2 separate regions of the Homo sapiens genome follow, and region 2 is linked to region 1. Evidence: fine-mapped expression QTL. A gene starts in region 1. The other region holds a variant in brackets. All regions are shown on one strand. Distances are between the middles of the regions.

The links.
Region 2: its variant is fine-mapped to the expression of GABRA3 in nasal epithelium (TOPMed, PIP 0.99).

Annotation. Positions count from the first base shown.
Region 1 is chrX:152,448,726-152,454,253 of GRCh38, reverse strand. GABRA3 (gamma-aminobutyric acid type A receptor subunit alpha3) reads left to right here and starts at 2,939. Exons shown (of 10, transcript NM_000808.4): 1 at 2,939-3,108.
Region 2 is chrX:152,238,793-152,243,792 of GRCh38, reverse strand. All of the region lies in intron 5 of GABRA3 (gamma-aminobutyric acid type A receptor subunit alpha3), which reads left to right. Among named protein-coding and RNA genes, the nearest start is that of MAGEA10, 100 kb to the right of the region's middle. The variant C/T (reference allele first, on the strand shown) is at 2,172.

The DNA.
Region 1 (5,528 bases):
TAACAGTTGCAACATTGATTCTAGTTTCTCTAGAGTTTATTCACTGCTTTGGCCTGGGGGCTGCCATCAGACAAAAATTTCCAGAAAAGGAAAAACTCACTTAGTATTGTTCCCTCCTTTCAATTATTAATTCCCTTTCAATTTTTGCCTGTTTATGGGTTGCTTTCCTGTGCATTTAAATTGTTTTATTATATATTTGGTCCACTGTTTATTATTGTTATCTGCATCAGGGTTGGTCTGATAGAAGCTTCTTCACCATTGCCAGAAGTTTTCCTAATAAAGGATTCTGTTTTTTTTGTTGTTGTTGTTGTTTGTTTGTTTTTGGTTTGCAGTCAAGTGGGAAAATTATGAAAATGCTGTGAAGTTTTCATACAGGTATAATTGTATGATTCAGAGAAGAGTTTTTTTGTTCAGAGAGTGTCTTAATCCAACTTATTTATATTAAAATATCTTTTCTTTAAAATAAATGGTGGCACCCAGATGGTTTATTTGTTTGTTTGGTATCTTTATTAGATGAAAAGTTTTCAATTGTAGTAGACTGAATAGTGTCCCCCAAAATTCATGTTCGTCTATAACCTCAGGGTGTGACCTCATTTCAATGGTATGGTATTTGCAAAAGGAAGTAGTTAAAGATCTTGAGATGAAATCATTCCGGATTTAGGTTGGGCCTTAAATCCAATGACTGGTGTCTTTATAAGAAAAAAGAGGGAGATTTGGGCACACAGAAATCAGAGGAGAAGACCATTTGAAGACCGAGGCAGAGATTCAGTGATAAGCCAAGGAACACTGGAAACCACCAGAAGCTGGAAGAGACAAGAAATCATTCTCTAGAACTTTTGGAGTAGTTTGACCCTGCCAGCATCTCGATTTTAGACTTCTGACCTTCAGAACTGTGAGACAATAAATTTCTGTTGTTTTAAGCTACTGAATTTATGGTAATTTGTTATGGCAGCCCTAGAAAACTAATACAGCAACCTTAATATTTCTTTTTGCCAGTATACTAATCTATTAAATCCAATGGACATTTATGCAAACAAATCTACACATGAAAATGGGTACCTATGCAGGAAAAAGTATTTATAGCTTTATGCTCACATACACACTTGCTTTATGTGCAAGTTACATGTTAATTTTGTAGAGAAAAATACTGTACCTGCAGTCAGCAATCTGAGTACTGGCCTTGATTCTGCCACTGACTCACTATGACCTTGTGTGAATTATATTTTCTATTTAGTCTAGTTTCTTTTTCTGTACAATGACATGGTTATCTTTATGGGTCCCTTTAGCTCAGTGACTCTAAGCTTACGAGTACCTATCTATCTTCTACTCAATGTATGGACACATGCTTTTGAAGATGTATAGGAGTGTAGCACATGTACTTCATTTGGCAGGAGTAGAGAGCATTAGAAATTTGGGGGAAAAAAACCAACAGGATGGTAGTTTAAAGAGAAATGGCACACTATGGGCAACATTGTAAATGCCTATTATGTCCCAGTCACTGTATGTATATTGACACTAGTATACTTAAACACACTATATAACTCACTTTCAATTAGATGCCCTCTGAATTTTTCTAACAGGACTAGAAATCACAATATGAAGAGTTTGACTAAGAAAACTTTTATACTAATCATTATATGTAAGCAGATGCTGAATTCTTTGATAGGAACAGCTCTTTATTCACGTGCTTATATTGGTATTATCCCTGAAACACAAAAGATGGAATGTTGAATCAATGTGATTTGGAGTCGCATTTGGGGACTCACCTTTGGAGAACTTTTGAAATGTGGCAGTTTAGTTTTTATTTTCTAAGGGCCAACTTCTCCTTTACCTGGAATTTTCCTGTCTTTAGATTCCTAGACTGTTAGTTCTGGAAGGGTCTTTTAAGATCATCTATTTCCATTACCATTCATTTGGTCACTGAGGATATTGAGGGCCAGATTGAAGAACTCGTTGAAAGCAACACAGCAATTTTCAGAGGCAGAACTCAAACTCAAGTTCCTTTATTTTATTTTTAGCCTAGGTCTTTTTCCACTCTATGCTGCATTGTTACTGTGCTTTGCCTAGGTTGCTTTTTTTCTTTTGACCCAATGGGAATATAGTTCTTTTATACTTTGAGTCAATAATTATCCTTCTCCCCACCTTAGTCCTTGTGCAACTCATGTATAGGCTCACACAATTACATACATCTATATTCCCTTTGGAATTTTTGAAAAGAAAGCATTGTGGTTCTGCTGCTTGTCTGTCTTACCTACAGGGAAGCTAGAACTGATAGTTTTGAATTGGGTCTGCACTTCTACTTGGTTGAGGGTGGGGGTGGAAGTTAGGTCAACAGGGGATCAATGTGGCGGAACTCTTTCTTCTTAGTGGAGTATGAATGACAACCCCTTTGATGTACATTTTTCTAGCTCATTATTGTCCCCAGAGATGGAATCTGAACAGACAGGATTGTCAAACCTTTATTTGCAGCCTGGGTTAGAAGGCACGCCCATAAGGATATAAGGGAGACAGAGGGAAAAAGGAGGAAGCTCACTCTTCAGTCTCGGAGCAGCAAGTAAGCATCACACATCAGCTACAGTAACCCATACTTCCTTTATCCTCCTATTCGCTCATACCCTTTTGCTCTCTTTCTCTTCCCTTTGCTGCCTCTGCTCCTCCCTTTCTCTCTGGGCTTCCCTCTATTTCTCTGTTGGATGCCTTAAGGAATAAAATACTACTTTAGTATTTCGTAAAACAACCACATCTAAAGCCTTGCAGTACTGTATTCAGAGCCCCAGCACAGCCGCGTGCTAAGCACCAGTGGTGAACCTAAAGCCAGCAAAGGGGGAGGGGAGAAGGGGAGGGGAGGAGGGGAGGGAGAAACTGACAGAGAGGGAGGGAGGCAGATTGAGAGAGAGAGAGAGAGAGAGAGAGAGAGAGAGAGAGAGCGAGAGAGCGTGAGCGCGCGCAAGCTAGCGAGCAAACCAGAGAGACAGACCGAGAGAGGGACCAGGAGAGAGACCCAGAGAGAGAAGAAGAAGCCAGAAGCCGAGCTCTGTCAGGGCTCAACCTCCAACTTGTTTCAGTTCATTCATCCTTCTCTCCTTTCCGCTCAGACTGTAGAGCTCGGTAAGAAACATTGATGTTCCTTCTTCCCCCTCCCCCAAGCTCAGGTCTCCTTTAGCGATAGCATCTCTCCCCCGTACTGAGAGTCTCCTTGGGTTGGCCGGGAGGCGAGGCATGCTCTGCAGCTGTGATGCTATCCTGGGTTCCCCAGTGGGGCTGGTGGAAGCCCAGAGGCGGCATCTGAGCAGGGAGACACTGGGGTAAAACCCGATTTGAGGAAGGGGGGTTGCGATGTGGTATATGCGTGATTTGCTTCATTGTCAGTGAATTGTTTTGTTCCTCTTTGGAAGCAGGTCAGCACTGACCTTGCAAATTGCTTGGGGGGCCCCAGCAGCTGCTGCAGAAAGCCACGGAGTGGCCCCTAGCCAAAGCAGACAGCACTGTCATGACCCCCCAGACAGCTCTAGGCACCAGGGATGTAGTAATGGCTGGAGCTTTCTCCCTTCTTTAACTCTTTCTCCGCAGCTGCTTCTCACTGCTGGAAATAAGAAAGAAGGAGGGTACCTTGCAGCCTCTTTCCCCATCTCCCCATTACCTCCCCCACATGCAAGTGAGTAGAAAGTTGTAAATAACTGCTTCCTTTAAAGCAGATTGAGCCCTCCCCCCTTCCTTTGAGGGGCTCACTGTGGGGTTGGGCCTGACTTCCTCCACAAACTTGGGAGGTTTGCCTTGTTTCCCGGCGAGAAGCTCCATTGCCTGCCCACCCTCAATTCCAGATAATTGAGCTGACATCCTAGATCAGAGATTGAGATACCCCACCCCATCTCACTCATAGGCATCATGTTAAGTCCAGCTGTGTCCTTGGAAGGGAGGAAACACCTGATGGTTTGTCTGCAACTGGCCTCCCAGTTTGTTGCTCCTCTGACTGTGGCTGTGGCTGTGGCTGCGGGTGGCATGGGCAAGAGGACTGGGGGAAGGGTGGCTGTTGGATTTATGGAAAGCAGGGTGATGAGGTAGGATTACTAACGTGAGTAGTTTGGCTTATTGAGAGTCAGCAAGTTCTGGTTGTCTGGAGCTCTGCAAAGACTGATTGAGGCTCTTGTAGTATAGCCCTTCAGAACTGGTAGGGGAAGGGATCCAATTGTTTGATGGGAGCTTTCTAAGTGAGTGACGCTGCTGTGCCTGTGGTAGTAATTCTGACATCCCTAATACTAATTGCTAAAATTATCGAGTATGTAGTATATTTTGGATTCTGGGCTGAGTGTTTGGTGTGTATTACTTCATTAAATTACTGTAGCAGAATAGTGCATTGAATAACAGACACTATTATTATCTTTGGTTTACTCACAAAATTGAGGCACAGAGAGGTTAAGTAACTTATCCAAGATTACAGAGCAATTACATGTCTCAGTTGGAAATTAAACTGGCAACCTGGTTCCAGAATCCGTGGTCTTAACCATGAAGCACTACTGCCTTCTTGGGGAGAATTTTGCACCTTTGTCTGTTAGGCAAGTGTAGATACAATAGGTACAGTGTGGCTTGGCAAGGTTTTTTGGAAAGTAGCGGCCTGGCTTTCGTGTAGAGTAACAGCAACTCAGCCTGGAGCCGGGCTTCACCTGGATTTCTGGAGGGGCTGCCCAAAAGACTTTGATTGGTCAGCTTCCTTTCCTTGAAAATCGTACTTCACTTTTTATAGCCTCATCCACCCAACATGCTCCAAACTGCACCTTTTAAAAACAGACCTCATTCTTATTTCCTGAGCATTTGGAGTTGTTCTGTGCCGAAAATTTTAGAATACTAAAACCTTGGAACTGGAAGGAGCCCAAAAGGTCATTCATTAAGCTTTATTTCTCTACTCAGTTCTTGAATTTATCCTAAGCATCCAATTTGTTGACTGATTTCTAGTTGAACTCCCTGCAGTGACAGAGAGTGCATTAGGTGGCTCTTTGTGTCATGGAGCAACTCTGATTGTCAGAAAGTATTCCCCATCATAAGCCAAAGTCTGTTTCCCAGTAACTTATATTCGTTGGTTCTTTGGGACTATCTGGAACAAATTTGCTTTTTCTTAATAATAGTTCTTCAGTTAGTTGAAGACAGCAATCATGCCTCCCTCTTAACCCTTGGATCCAATAAGACCACAGAGTAAAGGATTATCATTTACTTCATGCTGGATATTAGACTATTCTTAATATGGCCTAATAGCCCACTTGTTTTGTTAGCCACAAATTGACCCTACGGAGTTTTCTAGAGCAGCCCTGATAGTGTATATTCTCTTCCTTGGATGAGCTTGCTATCTGGTGTCAACTGGACTGATGGGAGCAAGGAAGGTCGCTTTCATATTCCTAAAGACCAGAAATTGGTTAGTACTAGTCCTTCTAAAGCCCCCAGGATGTCTATATGGCATCCGGACAATAGGCGTGTGGGAAGATTTGAGTGGCAGGAATTTTCATAAAGAAAATTATGAAATTTTCTAATTTCATGAA
Region 2 (5,000 bases), 210 kb after region 1:
ACTGCTTGCTTCATTTCCCCTCCCTCCTTCAAGATTCTGATACATATACCTTCTGCCTGAGATGTGTGGAGAGTCAGTGGAAAGACATGAACCCAGTATGCTGAATCTCAGTCGTTAGACTTCTTGTCTTCCCTAGATACATCACTCCTTTTGTAGTATCATCTAGTCTTAGGGCTTCAATTAGCATCTGCAAGGTGTTAGCTAACAAGACACAGAGAACTGAAGTAACTTACACATAGCTACTACTACAAGCTGGGTTCATGGTGGACCTGGGTTTTAAATCTGGCAGTCTGGCTTTGGAATCCATGCTCTGTTTATAATAAATAAATAAAAATAATATGTATTTATGGTGTACAACAGAATGTCTTGATATATTTATGCATTGGGGAATAGCTAAATCAAGCTAATTTTCATATGCATTACCTCACATCTCAATTTTTGTGCTGAGAACACGTAAATTCTGCTCTCAGCGATTTTTAAATATATAAAACACTGTTATTAACTATACTCACCATGTTGTACAATAGATCTCTTGAATTTATTTTTCCTGTGTAACTGAAATTTTATATTCTTTGACCAACATCTCCTCAATCCTCCCACTTCCTGGCCACCATTCTACTCTCTTTCTATGAGTCCAACTTTTATACACTCCACATATAAATGAGATTGTAGAGTATTTGTCTTTCTGAGTGTGGCTTATTTTGCTTAAGATAATGTCCTCCATGTTGTCGCAAGTGGCAGGATTTCCTTTTCTTCTAAGGCCAGGTAGTATTTTATTGTGTATATATACCACATCTTTTTATCCATTTATCCACCAATGAATGCTTAAATTGATTCCGTATCTTGGCTATTGTGAATAATGCTGAAATAAACATGAAAATGCAGATATTTCTTCAACATACTGATTTCATTTCCTTTGGATGCATGTACACACAGTAGTGGGATTGCTGGGTTATATGGTATTTCTATTTTTAATTTTTGAGGAACCTCCATACTGTTTTTTATAATGGCCGTATGAAAGAGTTCTCTTTTCTCCACATTCTCGCCAACACCTATCTTTTATCTTTTTGATAGTAGCCATCCTAACAGGTGTGAGGTAATATCTGATTGTGGTTTTGATTTGAATTTCTCTGATTATTTATGAAGTTGAGCCTCTTTTCATACATCTAAGACAAACATTTATTCAGATCCTTTGCCTATATTAAAAATTGGGCTATTTGTTTTCTTGCTATTGTTGTTTGAGTTCCTTATGTATTTTGAATATTAACCCTTTATTTGATATATAGTATGCAATATTTTCTCCCGTTCCATAGGTTATCTCTTCACTGTGTTAACTGTTTCCTTGGATGTGCAGAAGCTTTTTAGGTTGATGTAATGCCATTTGGCTATTTCTGCTTTTGTTGCCTATGCTTTTGGGGTCATTTGCAAAAAATATCATTGCCCAGGCCAGTGCTGTTGAGCTTTCTCTCTCTGTTTTCTTCTACTAGTTTTATAGTTTCAACTCAAAATATATTGAGTTGACTTTTGAGTATGGTGTAAATGGGGTCCAATTTCATTCTTCTGTATGTGGATATCCTGTTTTCCCAACACCATTTATTGAAGAGACTGTTCTTTCCCCCATAGTGTGTCCTTGGCATCTTTTATGAAAACCAATTGACTGTAAATGTGCAGATCTATTTCTGGGCTCTCTATTCTGTTCCATTGGTCTATGTGTTTGTTTTTTTGTTAGTACCATGCTGTTTTGAGTACTATAGAAATCAAATAGGAGGAGCCAAGATGGCCGAATAGGAACAGCTCCGGTCTACAGCTCCCAGCGTGAGCGACGCAGAAGACGGGTGATTTCTGCATTTCCATCTGAGGTACCGGGTTTATCTAACTAGGGAGTGCCAGACAGTGGGTGCAGGCCAGTGGGTGCGCGCACCGTGTGCGAGCCCAAGCAGGGCGAGGCATTGCCTCACTTGGGAAGAGCAAGGGGTCAGGGAGTTCCCTTTCTGAGTCCAAGAAAGGGGTGACGGACGCACCTGGAAAATCGGGTCACTCCCACCCGAATATTGCGCTTTTCAGACCGGCTTAAGAAACGGCGCACCACGAGACTATATCCCACACCTGGCTCAGAGGGTCCTACGCCCACGGAATCTCGCTGATTGCTAGCACAGCAGTCTGAGATCAAA[C/T]TGCAAAGCAGCAGCGAGGCTGGGGGAGGGGCGCCCGCCATTGCCCAGGCTTGCTTAGGTAAACAAAGCAGCCGGGAAGCTCGAACTGGGTGGAGCCCACCACAGCTCAAGGAGGCCTGCCTGCCTCTGTAGGCTCCACCTCTGGGGGCAGGGCACAGAGAAACAAAAAGACAGCAGTAACCTCTGCAGACTTAAGTGTCCCTGTCTGACAGCTTTGAAGAGAGCAGTGGTTCTCCCAGCACGCAGCTGGAGATCTGAGAACCGGCAGACTGCCTCCTCAAGTGGGTCCCTGACCCCTGACCCCTGACCCCTGAGCAGCCTAACTGGGAGGCACCCCCCAGCAGGGGCACACTGACACCTCACACTGCAGGGTATTCCAACAGACCTGCAGCTGAGGGTCCTGTCTGTTAGAAGGAAAACTAACAAACAGAAAGGACATCCACACCGAAAACCCATCTGTACATCACCATCATCAAAGACCAAAAGTAGATAAAACCACAAAGATGGGGAAAAAACAGAACAGAAAAACTGGAAACTCTAAAACGCAGAGCGCCTCTTCTCCTCCTCCAAAGGAACGCAGTTCCTCACCAGCAACGGAACAAAGCTGGATGGAGAATGACTTTGACGAGCTGAGAGAAGAAGGCTTCAGACGATCAAATTACTCTGAGCTACGGGAGGACATTCAAACCAAAGGCAAAGAAGTTGAAAACTTTGAAAAAAATTTAGAAGAATGTATAACTAGAATAACCAATACAGAGAAGTACTTAAAGGAGCTGATGGAGCTGAAAACCAAGGCTCGAGAACTACGTGAAGAATGCAGAAGCCTCAGGAGCCGATGCGATCAACTGGAAGAAAGGGTATCAGTAATGGAAGATGAAATGAATGAAATGAAGCGAGAAGGGAAGTTTAGAGAAAAAAGAATAAAAAGATATGAGCAAAGCCTCCAAGAAATATGGGACTATGTGAAAAGACCAAATCTACGTCTGATTGATGTACCTGAAAGTGATGGGGAGAATGGAACCAAGTTGGAAAACACTCTGCAGGATATTATCCAGGAGAACTTCCCCAATCTAGCAAGGCAGGCCAACGTTCAGATTCAGGAAATACAGAGAACACCACAAAGATACTCCTCGAGAAGAGCAACTCCAAGACACATAATTGTCAGATTCACCAAAGTTGAAATGAAGGAAAAAATGTTAAGGGCAGCCAGAGAGAAAGGTCGGGTTACCCTCAAAGGGAAGCCCATCAGACTAACAGCGGATCTCTCAGCAGAAACCCTACAAGCCAGAAGAGAGTGGGGGCCAATATTCAACGTTCTTAAAGAAAAGAATTTTCAAACCAGAATTTCATATCCAGCCAAACTAAGCTTCATAAGTGAAGGAGAAATAAAATACTTCACAGACAAGCCAATGCTGAGAGATTTTGTCACCACCAGGCCTGCCCTAAAAGTGCTCCTGAAGGAAGCGCTAAACATGGAAAGGAACAACCGGTACCAGCTGCTGCAAAATCATGCCAAAATGTAAAGACCATCGAGACTAGGAAGAAACTGCATCAACTAACGAGCAAAATCACCAGCTAACATCATAATGACAGGATCAAATTCACACATAACAATATTAACTTTAAATGTAAATGGACTAAATTCTCCAATTAAAAGACACAGACTGGCAAATTGGATAAAGAGTCAAGACCCATCAGTGTGCTGTATTCAGCAAACCCATCTCACGTGCAGAGACACACATAGGCTCAAAATAAAAGGATGGAGGAAGATCTACCAAGCTAATGGAAAACAAAAAAAGGCAGGGGTTGCAATCCTCGTCTCTGATAAAACAGACTTGAAACCAACAAAGATCAAAAGAGACAAAGAAGGCCATTACATAATGGTAAAGGGATCAATTCAACAAGAAGAGCTAACTATCCTAAATATATATGCACCCAATACAGGAGCACCCAGATTCATAAAGCAAGTCCTGAGTGACCTACAAAGAGACTTAGACTCCCACACAATAATAATGGGAGACTTTAACACCCCACTGTCAACATTAGACAGATCAACGAGACAGAAAGTCAACAAGGATACCCAGGAATTGAACTCAGCTCTGCACCAAGTGGACCTAATAGACATCTACAGAACTCTCCACCCCAAATCAACAGAATATACATTTTTTTCAGCACCACACCACACCTATTCCAAAATTGACCACATAGTTGGAAGAAAAGCTCTCCTCAGCAAATGTAAAAGAACAGAAATGATAACAAACTATCTCTCAGACCACAGTGCAATCAAACTAGAACTCAGTATTAAGAATCTCACTCAAAGCCTCTCAACTACATGGAAACTGAACAACCTGCTCCTGAATGACTACTGGGTACATAACGAAATGAAGGCAGAAATAAAGATGTTCTTTGAAACCAACGAGAACAAAGACACAACATACCAGAATCTCTGGGACGCATTCAAAGCAGTGTGTAGAGGGAAATTTATAGCACTAAATGCCCACAAGAGAAAGCAGGAAAGATCCAAAATTGACACCCTAACATCACAATTAAAAGAACTAGAAAAGCAAGAGCAAACACATTCAACAGCTAGCAGAAGGCAAGAAATAACTAAAATCAGAGCAGAACTGAAGGAAATAGAGACACAAGAAACCCTTCAAAAAATCAATGAATCCAGGAGCTGGTTTTTTGAAAGGATCAACAAAATTGATAGACCACTAGCAAGGCTAATGAAGAAAAAAAGAGAGAAGAATCAAATAGACACAATAAAAAATGATAAAGGGGATATCACCACTGATCCCACAGAAATACAAACTACCATCAGAGAATACT